Linked DNA regions of Homo sapiens: region 2 is linked to region 1. The links come from fine-mapping of genetic effects on gene expression. A gene starts in region 1. The other region holds a variant in brackets. All regions are shown on one strand. Distances are between the middles of the regions.

Region 1 (8,333 bases):
TTCAAGCGGGCGGCAGCTCGCTCCTGTATTGTTTACCACAGCTATTTCCTTGAGAAGTTTCACAGCTTCAGCGTGCAGCCACCATGCTTTCTGCCTCGTACACAGGGGAAAAGTTGAGTGACTGCATTGTCCTTGAAATTTTACCTGAAAACCTCATGACTTTTTTGCTTGCATAGATTCTTTTTTTTTTTCTCTGAGACGGAGTTCGCTCTTGTTGCCCAGGCGGGAATGCAATGGCGCGATCTTGGCTCACCACAACCTCCGCCTCCCAGGTTCATGAAATTCTCCTGCCTCAACCTCCCGAGTAGCTGACATTACAGGCATGCACCACCATCCTCCGCTAATTTTGTATTTTTAGTAGAGACAGGGTTTCTTCATGTTGGTCAGGCTGGTCTCAAACTCCCAACCTCAGGTGATCTGCCCACCGTGGCCTCCCAAAGTGCTGGGATTACAGGTGTGAGCCACTGCGACCGGCCTGCTTGCATAGATTCTTTACGGAAGCTGATTACAGCCACAAAGGAAGGTGATGAATAAAGAACAGCTCTCAGCTCAGTTCCCTATTCATAGGCTTAAAAGACTCATTTTTGCAACAATGAGACAGCACGCATGCATATCCATCAGAAAGTCTGACACAGAAATGAAGATGTGCGTTTATACATTTTCTGTCTATCTTGTTACTCATTCAGAGGTGGGTTTTCTGGGAAGCGAATGACACCTCAACTTCAGAATCCTTTATTTGCACGGCCCTGTCCAAGGCCCTAGATGCCCTGTACCTGGTTCCCTCTTTGTTTTCCCAAAGTCTCCACAAGTTGTACAAGTTTCAGGTCCCTCAGATATCTCTACTTCACATTAGAAGACTCGGCTGGGTGCGGTGGCTCACGCCTGTAATCCCAGCACTTTGGGAAGCTGAGGTGGGTGGATCACGAGGTCAGGAGTTTTGAGACCAGCCTGGCCAACATGGTGAAACCCTGTCTTTACTAAAAATACAAAAATTAGCCGGGCATGGTGGTGGGCACCTGTAATCCCAGCTACTCGGGAAGCTGAGACAGAATTGTTTGAACCTGGGAGGTGGAGGTTGCAGTGAGCTGAGATCGCGCCATTGCACTCCAGCCTGGGTGACAGAGCGAGACTCTGTCTCAAAAAAATAAATAAGGCCGGGCGTGGTGGCTCACGCTTGTAATCCCAGCACTTTGGGAGGACGAGGCAGGTGGATCATGAAGTCAGGAGATGGAGACCATCCTGGCCAACATGTTAAAACCCTGTCTCCACTAAAAATACAAAAAAATTAGCCAGGTGTGGCGGCAGGTGCCTATAGTCCCAGCTACTTCGGAGGCTGAGGCAGGAGAATGGTGTTAACCCGGGAGGCAGAGCTTGCAGTGAGCTGAAATTGCAGCCACTGCACTCTAGCCTGGGCAACAGAGTGAGACTCTGTCTCAAAAAATAATAATAATAAAATAAGTAAATAAATAAACAGGCTGGGCTCGGTGGCTCACACCTGTAATCCCAACACTTTGGGAGGCCGAGGTGGGTGGATCACCTGAGGTCAGGAGTTTGAGACCAGCCTAGCCAACCTGGTGAAACCTCATCTATACTAAAAATACAAAAATTATCTGGGCATGGTGGCAGGCACCTGTAATCCTAGCTACCGGGGAGGCTGAGGCAGGAGAATCACTTGAACCTGGGAGGCAGGGGTTGCAGTGAACCGAGATCGTGCCATTGCACTCCAGCCTGGGCAACAGAGTGAGACTCCATCTCAAATAAATAAAAAAAAATAAAAATACATAAAAATAAATAAATAAATAAATAAAACATTAGAAGACTCACACGTGGGCTTGAATCTATAAAACTTGAAGCCTACCTGAGAGAGGACAAAGTTGAACAGGCGCTTTCTCTGAAAGATCACTGCAATTCACCGCTGATTCCGAGTATTCTTTCTCATTCGGGGAGCCTTTTACCACCCAAAAACAACAAAAAATATTACTTTAGAATCAGAAATAGGAATTCATGACTGAAATAGGAAGCCATGGCATTCATACTTTAAACTTGACCTCTTTGTATGGAAGAGCAAAGAAATGAGAATTAATATTATTATTTATTTATTTATTTATTTATTTGAGATGGAGTCTCGCTCTGTCACCAGGCTGGAGTGCAGTGGCGCGATCTCAGCTCACTGCAACCTCCACCTCCCGGGTTCAAGCAATTCCCCTGCCTCAGCCTCCTGAGTAGCTGGGACTACAGGCGCCCGCCACCACACCCAGCTAATTTTTTTGTATTTTTTAGTAGAGTTTCACCATGTTGGCCAGGATGATCTCGATCTCTTGACCTCATGATCCATCCGCCTAGGCCTCCCAAAGTGCTGAGATGACAGGCGTGAGCCATCACACCCGGCCGAGAATTAATATTATTATATCCTTCTAGGTACTACTCACAATTGTTGTTATGCTTTCTGTTGTGCCAACAGCTACTATTTATTTAGCTCTTACTCTGAACCAGATAGTTTAAGTACTTTGCATACATTATCTCTACTAATCCTTATTGCCACATTATGAAGTAAATGTACCCATTCTACAGATGAGGAGAGTGAGTCTTGGAGTGATTAAGTAACTTACCTAAACTCACACTCTAAACTGGGTCTGTTTAACTCCAAAACCTTATGCTTCATTTAGGCAAAGCAGCTAAGTTAGAATCTCCAACTATCTTGGCTAAATAATCTTTTCTACACCAATTCTAATTTCTTTTTTTCTTTTTTTGAGACGGAGTCTTACTCTGTTGCCCAGGCTGGATTGCAGTGGCAGGATCTTGGCTCACTGCCACCTCCGCCTCCCAGGTTCAAGTGATTCTCGTGCCTCAGCCTCCTGGGCAGCTGGGATTACAGGTGCCTGCCACCACACCCAGCTAATTTTTGTATTTTTTTTTTTTTTTTAGAGATGGGGTTTCATCATGTTGGCCAGGCTGGTCTCAAATTCCTGATCTCAAGGGATCTACCCACCTTGGCCTCCCAAAGTACTGGGATTACAGGCGTGAGCCACCGCACCCAGCCCAATTCTAATTTAATAAATCTTTAATATCTAATGTGCACTTTCCTCTCATAGTCTCTTTCTTACCAAGCAATTTAGAGATTAAGGAAGCTTAATTAAAAGAAATTTAAATTAGACCCTAGCTAACTTTTTTATAATTCCAAAATGATATTTATGTTCCACCTCCAAACGAGAAATTACGGATGATCAAAACAATAAAGTCGATTCAGAGAGAGCAAAATAGTAATAAACTGTAAGTATAAGAATTTGCAAACCAAAGAAGAAAGCAAATGACACTCTACCCTTTAAAAAAAAAAATCACACCATATAGCTTTTGGATAGTGTTTTTCTGTTTTGTTTTGGTTTTTAATTAACTCTGAAGTCACTTCCACCATATCACTTAAATCATTATTATCTCAAATGTTAAATGTATGTTATTCAATAAAATTACAAGATATCTTTTATCTAATTTATTATGTTTTGTTTCCTACCTTTTCAATGTCATAAATTTAAGAAAAGTTACAATAACTATAATCTCTACCCACCCCACTCCCCCACTCCTAAAACGACCTGCTGCAACGGCCAGCCATGCCTTCTCATCCTACCTTCGCATCTGCTTCAAGAGAAGAGACCAGAGCCGGCTCTGCAGAGAAGGAAGTCAATTCTTCTTGTTAGAGTAACTGACGTATTTCTCTTCCCTTCCTGTCGGGCACAGGCTGACGCAGTGCACCCTGTGTGGCCAGCCTTACATGCCTCGGTGGCTACTCCCACATCACTAGGGACCCAGGGAGCAAAGCCACCCCAAAACCACATCAAGGAGCTCTTCTATGCCAACATTTTACATTTTTAGCTGGAGGAAAGACCAGGCTGATGCTGGTGAAATGTTTCACCCTTCCTAAGGAAACTCCCTACAGAGACTACAGCCTTCAAATATTCAAATGTTCTCACATTTGTGAAGGGTTTCACATTGACTTCAGTGTAAATGACTAACCACATCTCAAAGAACAGCTATTAACTCAAGAATAATTTACAAGAAAGGGGGACAGCCAGGCCAAGAGCGATGAAGATTGTAATGAAATCACCAAGGGGAACCTTCAAAATGCTGTGCGTGTACTAGGTAGTATTACTCAGCACCGTGAAGTGTCCCTGCCCTGCTAACTCAGGCATGGCCAAGGACTTGCTCTGGAGAGCAATAAGACAATGAAGTGTGTGCAAAGGTGCCACGTGCCACGTAGGCTTGGCACCTACCGAGCCAGTACTGGGGCCACCATTCATTCTCTTTCCCTTCTCTTTCCCTTGATGACTCCAGACACAGGCTGCTCCAGCAACCTCGTCTCAGCATGGAGAAGACATGAAGCAGAGCCATGGAAGATCCTTGATGGTCATGGAGTGTGAGTGGCAAATAAATGTTTGCTGTCATCAACCACTGAGAGTGTAGGGCCATTTGTTTCTGCAGCTAACCTAGCCTATTCTGCTGATGTAGTGTGTAGTGTTTTCACAAACACAGAACTGAGCACCAAACTATTTAATAACTACTATAGCATGAATATTTACCCATTGGAACAAATGCCAGCGGAGGCCCTGCTATACCACGAGTTATCCTTTAGTTATTGGATCTTGGGGATGAGGTCCCAGGGAAGGGGCTGCAGTCACCAGGATTGAGAGGAAGAGGGACCCAAGAAGCTCAGAGCAGCCACTGTTTCATGGGGTACAGAGGTATTTCAGCACAACTGTGCCTCCGCTTCCCAGCTCAATAGCAGATCTAAATATAGGCACTTCTTAGCTAATCTCTTTAGCTTTTCTCAGCACAGGACTCTCACTTTAGATATGTGTCAGCCAGAGTTTCTTTTCCTTTACAACATTAAATTCCTCAGCCATGAGTGTTTCAACAGCACCCTCGTCCTCATCGTCTTCTTCTGTTACTATTATTTTGACTCAGCATGATCTCATAGTAACACACTTCTTGGCACAGGGGAAGAAAGGAAAAAATGGAAAATCCACAGGATGGCATTTGGACTATGAAGGGCTGCAGATTATAGCAGAACAACACTGCTGGATATTATTATTATTATTATTTTTTTTTTTTTTTTTTTGAGACCGAGTCTCGCTCTTTCACCCAGTCGGGACTGCAGTGGCGCGATCTCGGCTCACTGCAAGCTCCGCCTCCCGGGTTCACGCTATTCTCCTGCCTCAGCCTCCCGAGTAGCTGGGACTACAGGCGCCCACCACCGCACCCAGCTAATTTTTTGTATTTTTAGTAGATACAGGGTTTCACCGTGTTAGCCAGGATGGTCTCGATCTCCTGACCTCGTGATCCGCCCGCCTCGGCCTCCCAAAGTGCTGGGATTACAGGCGTGAGCCACCACGCCTGGCCTATTATTTTATTTTTTGAGACGGAGTTTCGCTCTTGTTACCCGGGCTGGAGTGCAATGGCGCTATCTCAGCTCACCGCAATCTCTGCCTCCTGGGTTCAAGCGATTCTCCTGCCTCAGCCTCCCAAGTAGCTGGGATTACAAGCATGCACCACCATGCCTGGCTAATTTTGTATTTTTAGTAGAGATAGGGTTTCTCCATGTTGGTCAGGCTAGTCTCGAACTCCCGACCTCTGGTGATCTGCCCACCTCAGCCTCCCAAAGTACTGGGATTACAGGTGTGAGCCACTGCGCCCAGCCACTGCTGGATATTATTGATGTTATTTATTGATGTGACAGTTCATTGATTGCTATGATTATTAGGCCCACACTTGCTAAATAAAGGTATTGGCAGCTCCAGTCCCACAGTCTGTATTCAAGAAATTTGACTCCAGAAAAGAAAGGTGATTGCACGCAAACCTGCCAACCTATCACTAACCTCCAAATTGAAAAACAAACCTAAGATTCACTCCACTGACTTACTGCATAGAAACTAAACATTATTCTAAAATATGGCAGAATGCCAAAGATTCATGAGCAGTTACGAGTAAAGGTGTCTGAGCTCCAATGCTTCTGATGGACATCCATTCGTGGCAGATGGAAGGTGCTGGAAATGGCATCTGGTGAACTGCCAAATGTCTTAACGATTTTAAATTCCTTAGCCCTACAGACTACATCAGTTGGGCAGAATATAATACCACATCACTGCATTTTTCCAAGCACTACAACATCACATAAGCCTAGAGAATTCAAACCCTCCTATTTACAGATATATCCGTTTAAAAGAAAAAATTCCATAAAGGCCATGTTTTAGTCAACTTTGTAGCCTCAACCCCCAGCTCAGAGCCTGACACAAAGGGAGTGCTCCATATATGTGTATTGAACAAGTGAACAGATAGTTGTGAAGATAAACAGACCAGCTCATCCGTTTACTGGCAGCCTCAAAATGTCATACATCGCGATCATTTAACAAATGTTCTTTAATAGTTAAAATTGGAGAGTGGTACCCAATGTATAAAAGCTAAAATCATGTAAGCATTTTTAAAATGCACATTTGCATGTTTTCTGTTGATTTATGTGCATGCTGGTGATCCGCAGTTATAACAAGATCCATGCATTAATTATGCACCATCCTAGCAGACATTCAGGAAATTGATTTAAATTAGGAAGTTCCTAAAAGGTTGTGGGGAAAATTGAAAAGGCTGTCCCAAGTGTCATGTTCTTCCATTGCAGGTGTTTGCTCAGAACCGGTTTACTCTTGCTTTGCACATAATTCTGTGACACTTAGCTACTGAACTCCAGGTCCACAACAAAGTAGCAGAAGAAAAAAGATTTCAGAGGCTCCTGATTGGCTCAGGATCGTGGTGGGGCCAAGAGCTTGGAACCAGGTAGGCAGAGAACATCCAAAACGAGATCTCAGGTGATACTGAGAAGGGCAGGCAGGCAAAGCAATGTCAGCATCAGAATCACATGTGGACTGAGGCGCACGACTGAAACACCAGGACAGGGGAGTTGAAGCCAGGTAATAAGAAAGGAATTCAAAAGGTAGATAAAGTTCAGAATCCAAGGAGAGGAAGACCAGGTGTGGTAAAGCAACCAGCCTGCCCAGCAAGTCTCCTCGCTCAGGCCGAACACCCAGGGCCAAGCAGCCTTGTGTCAGTCAGGGCTCTGCCCTCCTCTCGCCAGCCCTGTTTCCCTCAAGGAGGCAGGTAGTTGCATCTTCCTCCACTCCCCAGTTCTCTCCATTTGGGTCTGAGGCAAAGCTAACACCCATGAGGGAAATGATTCATGCAATAAATTTTAGGCCGGGCATGGTGGCTCACAGCTATAATCCCAGCACTTTGGGAGGCTGAGGCTGGAGGATCCCTTAAGCCCGGGAGTTTGAGACCTGCCTGGGCAACACAGTGAGATCCCATCTCTACAAAAGACATATTAAAAAAATAGGTGGGTGTGGTGGCTAGTGCCTGGAATCCCAGCTGCTCAGGAGGCTAAGGCAGGAGAATACCTTGAGCCCAGGAGTTCAAGCTCTTAGTGGTCTTTGGATGACTAAACTTCAACACATCTTAGCTCAAAATCTCCGATCACACCACTGCATTCCAGCCCGGGCAACAGAATGACACCCTGTCTCTAAATAAATAAATAAATAAATGTTAATTGTGTAGCTATTATGTGCCAGGCACAATGTGGAAGGAAGGGGATACATTAGTGAATAAAACAGATCCTTCCTGCATGGTACTTAGTTTCTAAATGGAGACACACCATCAACAAGCAACCATAAATACGTTCTTGCAAACTGAGAGAAGTGCTATGAGGAAAATGTACAGGATGCAGGGGTGGAGGATGAGGAGGTCGGCTACCTTAGATGCCGTGGTCACAGAATGGCTCTCTGTAGGAGATTTTGAGCTAAGATATGTTAAAAGTTTAGTCATCCAAAGATCACTAAGATTAGTCTATAGTCTGACAACTTAGTAACTATTGACTTATGGCAGGGCAGAATGGGTGAGGGGAGGGAGGAGTCGTTGGGTTAGGTTCCTCTTGAAGGGCTCTAATAAGACCCTGATAGACCGACCAGGTTACAGTCCGATGGTCATAATCCAGATGAGAGATATCAATCTTTAACTGGGGTCCCGAGCATATGGGGTAGAAATAACAAGGGTTGTTGATGGATTAGATGTGGGATTTGAAGTTTAGGTCTACCAAATCCCTGGGACCCTTGCAGTCAGCTCTTTCTTGGGGAATGGGAAGTGGGTTCCAGCAACCTGAATTCAAGTGCATGACGAAACCAGAAAAAGCAAACGCCAAAATCAAAACTCGGAGCCTCAGAATACCTGCCAATAGATGCATATGCCCCAGCTTTCCGTGGAGGGCAGTTTACCAGAGCCCAGTGCAATTCCTAATTTCCATA
Region 2 (8,333 bases), 67 kb before region 1:
CTGCTCTCGAACGCCTGAACTCAGGTGATCCACCCACTTCAGCCTCCCAGAGTGCTGGGATTACAGGCATGAGCCATGGTGCCCGGCCAATTTTTAAAATTTTTAATTTATTATTATTTGAGACAGGGTTTCACTCTGTCACCCAGGCTGGAGTGCAGTGGTGCAACCATGGCTCACTGCAGCCTTGACCTCCTGGGCTCAAGCGATCCTCCCACCTCAGTCTCCCTAGTAGCTGGGATTATAGACATGTGACACCACACCCGGCTAATATTTGTATTTTTGTAGAGACAGGGTTTTCTCATGTTGCCCAGGCTGGTCTCCAACTCCTTGGCTCAAGCAATCTGCCCACCTCGGCTTCCCAAAGTGCTGGGATTACCGGCATGAGCCACCAGGCTCGGCCGATCTTTATCATGGGAGTAACAATGTCTACCACGGTATTTTTGTGAGAATTAAATGTGATGAAGTAGGTAAGAAGCAATGCTGCCACCACGTGTGGCACACAGGGCTTCATATGGTTGCTAACCCTCCCCTCCACCTGTTTCACTAGAAGGAGTGATCCCCGGAGGGAGTTCGGAGGGAGCTTCTGTAGACCCCGGGAAGCTGACAGGAGCTGACACTTGTGTTATAGAATTTCAAACACCTGCCAAATACATTTCAAACTGTCTAGACACCTCGCTCCTGAAGTGTGGTCTGAGAACTTCACAGCATAGACTTCGCCAGATCCCAGGAGTTCACCAAAAATGCATCTGCGGTTCCTCATCTCACGTCCACCCCGCAGCTACTGATTTGGAATCTGCATTTTAAGAGCCCCAGTGACCCCCTATACTCATAAGAGCTGGGAATCACTGCCTCAGAGTTCAGTCCTCTTTTGGCTATACAACCTTTGGCAGGTGACTTAATCTAAACCTCCATTTCTTTACATGTAAAATGAGGCTGCATGCAATACCTACCCTAGATGGTGGTTATGAAGATAAAATGAGATAGCCTAGTTAAGCTATTAGTACAGAGTCCAGCACATCATAGTCAATGCTGGCAATTTAGATAAAATATTTAGATGACTTAGATAGCAAATCAAGATACTACATTATCTCATTAGATGTTTACAAAACCTTGTGCTGTGCGCAGAACAGGTATTATCATCTTCATTTTACAGAGGGGCGCACTGGGCTGGAGCGGGAGGCAGGACGTGAACTCTCAAGAGGCTGTGTGCAAGTTCCAGCAGGAGAGGGGGGCTGACCTCACACCCTCGCCTAAAGGACAGTCTGTCTGGGGACAGCCTGAGTGGAGTCCACAGCAGCAGAGAAGGGACACCAGTTCTGTCCAGCCTACCAGGGCAGTCACATCAACACTGCAAGCAACAGCTGGTGGCACCTGCCCAGCCAAGGCACCTCAGCTGAACTAGAATGCGGGCTTTCCCATTCTAAGGTTGGCTCTCTCTCATACCCGAAGCGTTCACTCCAGGCTGGGTTAGTCCTGGTGGGAAGGTGGAATAATTATTTCCCTAGAAGCCTTTACTAAGGGAGCTCTCACTTGTGGTGTGGACAGCGGGGGAAGAGCGCCCCCACAGGCTTGCTCGCGCCTTTACGTTTTCAATAGTTTCCATCAGAGGTCAGGATAGATTTTAACCAAAGGCTGCTGGTCTTGCAGACTCCAGGGCTAACCCGGCAGGTGTGGGCCCTGCAGGAAGCCCTTGGGCTTTGGCGCAGGCTTGAAGCCAGCAGGGAGCTCTGTGGACACAGAGGAGCCTCAGGGGCTTGTGATTAGGTGGAAGCCTTTCCTTGTGCTGAACAGTTTTCCAGACTGACCTTCAATCCTGACCTGCCTTGGGCCAGCCCTGCCCAAATAGAGGCACTGACTGGTAATTATGTTTTTCTGATGGCTTACTGTTTTTCTATAAAACCAAAGAAAACATAAATCTACAGAGAAGGCAGGCTAGAAAGTTCTGGAAGACAACATGAAGGTGATCAGCGTGGAGGCCTTGTGGGGCTCAGGGTACCCTGGTGGTGACGTTGACCGCAGTGTCAGACTGGCTCCGTCTCTCTGTCTGTCCCACACACTGCCTGGGGCCCGTGGCGAGAAGATGCTTCTCAGAAGTCATATCATTCTGGGATTTGGAGAGCTCTAAAAGGCAAACACAAGGGTTGATGGGTGGGAACAAGCAGCTTTGCTGAGACTTGTGGGAGCCTCTTCTGGGGTTCACTGAACCCACAGACAGTGGGTCCCAAGGTCTTAAGAGGGCAAAGTGCACGGAGGAGCAAGGGCGGCACATTCCCCCACCAAGTGCAGAGGTGTTGGGAAGGTGAGCAGACAGTGTGCTGGGTCAGGGCAGGAGAGGGCTGGCTTCCTTCAAGGTCCCGCTGTGGCCACCCAGGCCATGGTCAGGGTGAGAGGTGAAGGGAAATCATCCACCCAAGCTCCTCTGCGTTCCAGGTCACACATATGTGTGTGCACTCATCCAAACACGAAGACGGCAGCCTACCAAACAAGCCGGCTTTCTAGGGGTTCCTTACAAAGATGTTACAACTTAACACCATTTCTTGTGACTTTTTGAAGCGAGGTAAAAATAAGATTTGGGGTGTCCTCATAACAATTATAATAAACAAACCCTGGAAAGATGACTGTAAACAAATTTGTTTCATTTTTACAGTGTAATAGTGGTCTAGAGTAAAGATGAAGAAAGTTTGAAGGAAGGAAGCCACATACAGAAGTGAGAGAACCACCTTGAAGATAGTTTCATCCTCTGAAGATGGTTTCATTTTCCCTTGAGAACCCCACTCCTCCAAACGGGGACCTTAAAACTGTCTCTAGAGCTGTGCTGTCCGGCAGAGAGACAATGCAAGTCACACATACAATTTTAAATTTTATAGTAGCCATATTTAAAAAGTTAAAAAAAAAAAAACAGGTAAAATTAACTCTATTTACTTATTTATTTTTGAAATAGAGTCTCACTCTGTTGCCCAGAATGGAGTGCAATGATGTGATCTTGGCTCACTGCAACCTCCGCCTCCTGGGTTCAAGTGATTCTCATGCCTCAGCCTCCCAAGTAGCTGGGATTACAGGTGTGTGTCACCACGCCCGGCTAATTTTTGTATTAGCCATGGTTTCACCATGTTGGCCAGGCTGGTCTCGAACTCCTGAGCTCAAGAGATCCACCCACCTTGGCCTCCCAAAGTGCTGGGATTACAGGCTTAAGCCACCATGCCTGGCCAAATTAATTTTAATTCTATATTTAGTTTAACACAATATATCCAAAATATTAAAAAATGTCATCAACATTAAAGTTATCCATGAAATATTTTACTTTTGTTGGATTCCAAGTCTCTGAAACCCAGTGTGTTCACTTTGGTAGTGCATCTTGCAGCCCTATTTCAGGGGCTCAAGAGCAACACGTGGTTAGAGGCCACTGCAATGGACACTGTGGCTCTTGACCCCC[C/T]GGCTGGCTTTGGATCCACCTCCTTGGGATGTTATTGCATGAATCCTCTATCCTCTCACTATGTATTCGTTCTCTCCTGCCTACACTGCCCAAGAATGAGTCTTGCAGTATCTCTTTCATCTAAAGAGGGAACGGCTGGGGTGTCCAGCTTTTCCACCAGGATGCCTCCTAGCCTCCTCTGATAGCAATGCCATCCCCATGTCCTCAAGGTGACCATCAAGAAACACTGGGGGATCTTTCTAAGGCCAGCAGCTCGTAAGGCACTAGTACGCACCAGGTCCTCAAAGTGGACAAAGTAAAGGACACGCTCAGATGGTCCATCTCAGTCTGGACTGTGAGGCTGTGAGGGGCTCTAATTTCTAAGCCCTTAGGAGGAACTGGTCCCCCAGCAATCTCTTAGTGCCCATCCCAAAGCCTGGGCCTATTTGGGCCATTGAAAGTTCACAGATGAGGGGAGAGGACAAGCCTTCTTGAGAAATTTGGGCTCTAAGAAATAGGCTTATAGGTCAGTATTATTAGGGGACAAAGGATAAGGAAGAGAAAGAAATGCAGATTGCTTCTGGGCAAGACCAGTTTTCTCATTTCCTCTTCCCCTTTCTAAGGGGGACTACAGTGCTGACATCTTCTAGAAACGTACTGATAATAGACAGAGCTGCAGCCACTCATTTCCTCCCGCTGGTTTGACTTCATTGGGCAGCATCAGCAGCTAGAGGTTGTAATTCTGGGTCACCTTTCAAAACCCCTCAGGGGCAAAGCCACCCTTCAGCACCTGGGCCAGTGAAGAGTCTGGGGCCCTCTACAGTCCCTCCCCGAGGACCTCAGGTGCCAATCTTCCTCCCCTCAGAATGAGGCTTCCCTCTGCACCCACTTCCGTGGGGAAACAGGCAGCCAATAAGATAATAGGAGCACGAGAAGAGGAGCTCAAAATCCAAAGAAATAGGAGTCAGCGCCTACAGGACGCTAAGTGTCCTGTGGCAGAGACGGGAGAAGGGCGTGTGTGTGGTCACGTGTCCTGTTCCTGCAGAAACAGGGGAAGCACTCGGGAAAGGTCAGAGGCCAAGCACCACTCCCAGCAGCCAGAAAGCTGGGGTTTTCTATCTCTGCCTCTGGGCAGGGGGTGGGGGTGGTGGGGGGGTATGGGGGGTGCTGGGTGCGTGCGTGTGTGTGTGTGTGTGATGCGGTTTCAGTCTGCTTTCCATATCTGAGAAGGGATGCTTGCTGTTTTGCTCTTGTGAATTCCCCCACACCTCGCCCAGGGACTAGCTCTAGTTGTCCACCTGGGTATTACACTGGTTAGCCTCAAGTGCTCAAGTGTGTGAGCAGGTACACAGGCCAGGCTCTGGGGTGGCCACCTGACAGCTGTGAGCATATCCAATGAACCTGTGTGCAGGGCTGGGAGCATCCAGGAAGGTGCATGTGTGCTGACGTGTGTGTCCCACCTCTCTGGATTTCGGTGGCTGGGGGATGACAGGGTTGGGGCTAACTCCAAGGCACTGATTCTATAGTGGCAGTGGTGGAAGACAATTCACAGAAGCCACATAGATTTGGAGAAGGGCTGTGCACCTAGAAAGACATACAGGGAAGGTGAACTAGCACCCACCCATACATGACAAATACAAGGGGGTGGGTGGGAAAATAGCACCCACAAGAGAACAAGAGAAGAGGCAGCCGGGACAGCTGGAAAACACGTTCCAGGCCAAGGGGCACAGAGCAGGGGTTACTGTCAGAGAGCCCAGCAGGATGGAAACAGTGATTTTTAAGCCACCAAACGCTCTTAGCAAACAGGCCCATGAAATTCAGCTGCTTCCTCCCTAAGAAAGGAACAGACCATTGCATGAGACGACTGTTTCTGCTCATCTGAAGAGCAGTGCTTTGATGTCCATTGTCATCGTGTGACAGCTGACACAGGGCTCATGAGGAATACGGACAACTAATTAAAGTCACATAAAGAGACTGTCTCAGAGCCAAGTGCAGCACTGAGACCATCCGCATGCAACTACAGAAAAGGGGATGATGAAGAGAAGCCGAGCAGAAACACAGTGAAAGAGAAATCCATGCCTAAGGACCCTTGAGCACACTAAGGACATTTTCTAAACACCTGACCAGCCCTGGGCATCTTAGGAGGCATGAAAAGGAGTCTGTCCTCTGGGACTTGAATTTTAAGATAAACAGAGAAAAAAGTATCTGAGCAGAAAGAACATTGAAAGACACAAGATTGCAAGTGGAGGTGGTTCTAGGTTACATGCATCTGCAAATCACAGGATTACTGCTAACTGAAGAAAATACATTTACCAAGGAGGAGAGGAGAAAGGCAAGTAATTCCATGCAGACAATAGATAGATAATTGGGCCCTACTGGCCTGAAAGGTTCTGGTTTTAGATTCCCTGAAATTGCATCTTTTTTTTTTTTTCTTTTTCTTTTTTGAGACGGAGTCTTGCTCTGTTGCTCAGGCTGGAGTCCAGTGGCGTGATCTTGGCTCACTGCAACCTCCGCCTCCTGGGTTCAAGTGATTCTCCTGCCTCAGCTTCCCCAGTAGCTGGGATTACAGGCACCCACCACCATGCCTGGCTAATTTTTGTATTTTTAGTGGAGACAGGGTTTCACCATGTTGGCCAGATGGTCTCGAACTCCTGACCTCAAGTGATCCACCCACCTTGGCCTCCCAAAGTGCTTGGATTACAGGTCTGAGCCACCATTTCTCTTCCTATGAGGAACCAGAGGCCTGCTTTGTTGGGAAAGAGATGAAGGGCCAGGTGCTGTGGCTTTCCCCAGGGTCCAGAGACAAAGTGAGTGGCCTGAGGGACAGTGTCAACCGAGGTCACCGGCCAGGCCCTGGCCAGTGGGCTCGGCTGGCCTGGAAGGTAGTGGGAAAACACATCATGAAGCATGCACTTACTTTTCACGTGGGTAGCAAGAGACAGAAACAAATTTTCCACGGACTTATTAAATCCTCTAAACTGACCAAATTCCTGTAACTAAAACAGAGACAGAAGGAGAGAATGAGAATTATGCTTGATGACTTGTGTTTGCCTCAGCAGTGTCCAGGCTGCCAACCCCAAAACACTGGCATGTGGGTGTGTGCGAGTGAGTGTGGGCGTGGTGCTGGGGGTGCAGGTGGGCATGGGTGTGTGCATGCAGGCCTGGAGGCGGACAGCAGTCTTCCTGAGGGGTAGGCATCTTCTTCATTCAGCGTCTCTCCCTACTTTTGCTATTCACATTGAAGGAGCATTATCAGCGGGTTGTTGACAAGATGACAAGTACCCCTGGGAAATGATGACTGGCATTTCATTGGCTCAAAGACTGTACTCAAGTAAATTACTGCTTGTTTAACCTCTTTTCTCCAATGGCCCCACCCCAACTCCATGCAGAAGTGGCAGGATGTGGGTGGCACAGGGGATGAGGATGGTAAAAGCCACAAGGTGACCAGGCAAGAGCTGAGGGGCTCCACTTCCCAAAGCAGAAGAAAAAAAAGATAAAACAACAGAAAGGAGTTCACTTCCTTATCCAAGTCTCATTCATTCATCCATCCATCCACCCATCTAGCCACCAAACATCCATCCATCTTACATTACCACCCATCCAATCATCCATCTGTCCAATAAATACATCATGAGCACGTAGGTACTGGAACGACTCTGGAGAATTTGAAATTTCCAGGAGAAAGTAGAGCAGGATTTTGAAGGTCACCCCAGTCTCAGTTTGAAACTGAAAAAGAGGCCAGGCGCGGTGGCTCACGCCTGTAATCCCAGCACTTTGGGAGCCCGAGGCGGGCGGATCACGAGGTCAGGAGATCGAGACCATCCTGGCTAACACGTGAAACCCCGTCTCTACTAAAAATACAAAAAAAAATTAGCTGGGCAAGGTGGCGGGCACCTGTAATCCCAGCTACTTGGGAGGCTGAGGCAGGAGAATGGTGTGAACCCGGGAGGCGGAGCTTGCAATGAGTCGAGATCACGCCACTGGTCTCCAGCCTGGGCAATAGAGCGAGACTCTGTCTCAAAAAAAAAAAAAAAAAGAAAGAAAGAAAAGAAAAAGAATGTATGTGATTCTTCTCTCTTATCAGCATTATATATTTTTGGGTTTGGATCATAATCTCAAAGACACAGTCTCAAATGCCATAATCCTAAACGATGAAAGATCAAAATCCCTAAAGTCTAAATCCCTAAAGATTAAAATCCCTGAAGTCCAAATCCCTAACATCTAAAATCCCCAAAATCACAATTATGGGATAGTTGCATCATGTTAGGGGGACCTATTACTTTGTTACTGCCTTTATTAAATTAAGTATGACTTAAGGAGAGCCTATGGGTACAGGTTGACAAGGGGTGGACTCGTGGACTTAATTAATGACACCTTAATTGTAGGCATCCACTTGATTGGCTTCAGGAATACCTAGAAGCCTGGTAAGGCATTATTCTGGGTGTGTCTGTGAGGGTGTTTCCAGAGGAGATTAGTGTGTGAGTCTGAGTGGATTCGGTTAGAAAGATCTGCCCTCAATATTGGCAGGCACCACCCACTCAACCAGGGGCCCAAGGAGAACAAATACAGCAAATGAATTGGTCTCTGAGAGCTGGAACAGACTTTTCTTCTGCTGCCTTGGACATCAGAACCCAGGCTGATTGGCCATTGGACTCCAGGACTTAGACCAGAGGCTCCCTGGGTCCTGAGGCTTTCAGCTTTGAACTGAGAGTTACATTGTCAGAGGTATGTGAACCACAGCAACTCCATCTTGAATAGGAGCTGGGTAAAATGAGGCCGAGACCTACTGGGCTGCATTCCCAGATGGTTAAGGCATTCTAAGTCACAGGATGAGATGGGAGGTCAGCCCAATATACAGGTCATAAAGACCTTGCTGATAAAACAGGTTGCAGTAAAGAAGACAGCTAAAATCCACCAAAAC

Evidence for each region. PIP is the estimated chance that this variant, and not a neighbour inherited with it, causes the effect.
Region 2: its variant is fine-mapped to the expression of SYTL3 in whole blood (INTERVAL, PIP above 0.99).

The regions. Positions count from the first base shown.
Region 1 is chr6:158,645,368-158,653,700 of GRCh38, reverse strand. SYTL3 (synaptotagmin like 3) reads right to left here and starts at 3,647. Exons shown (of 18, transcript NM_001242394.2): 1 at 3,623-3,647; 2 at 1,859-1,948.
Region 2 is chr6:158,711,875-158,720,207 of GRCh38, reverse strand. It overlaps SYTL3 (synaptotagmin like 3), which reads right to left. Exons shown (of 18, transcript NM_001242394.2): 9 at 6,330-6,408; 10 at 1,997-2,121. Among named protein-coding and RNA genes, the nearest start is that of MIR3918, 49 kb to the left of the region's middle. RefSeq lists enhancers at 1-146, 4,039-4,128. The variant C/T (reference allele first, on the strand shown) is at 3,434.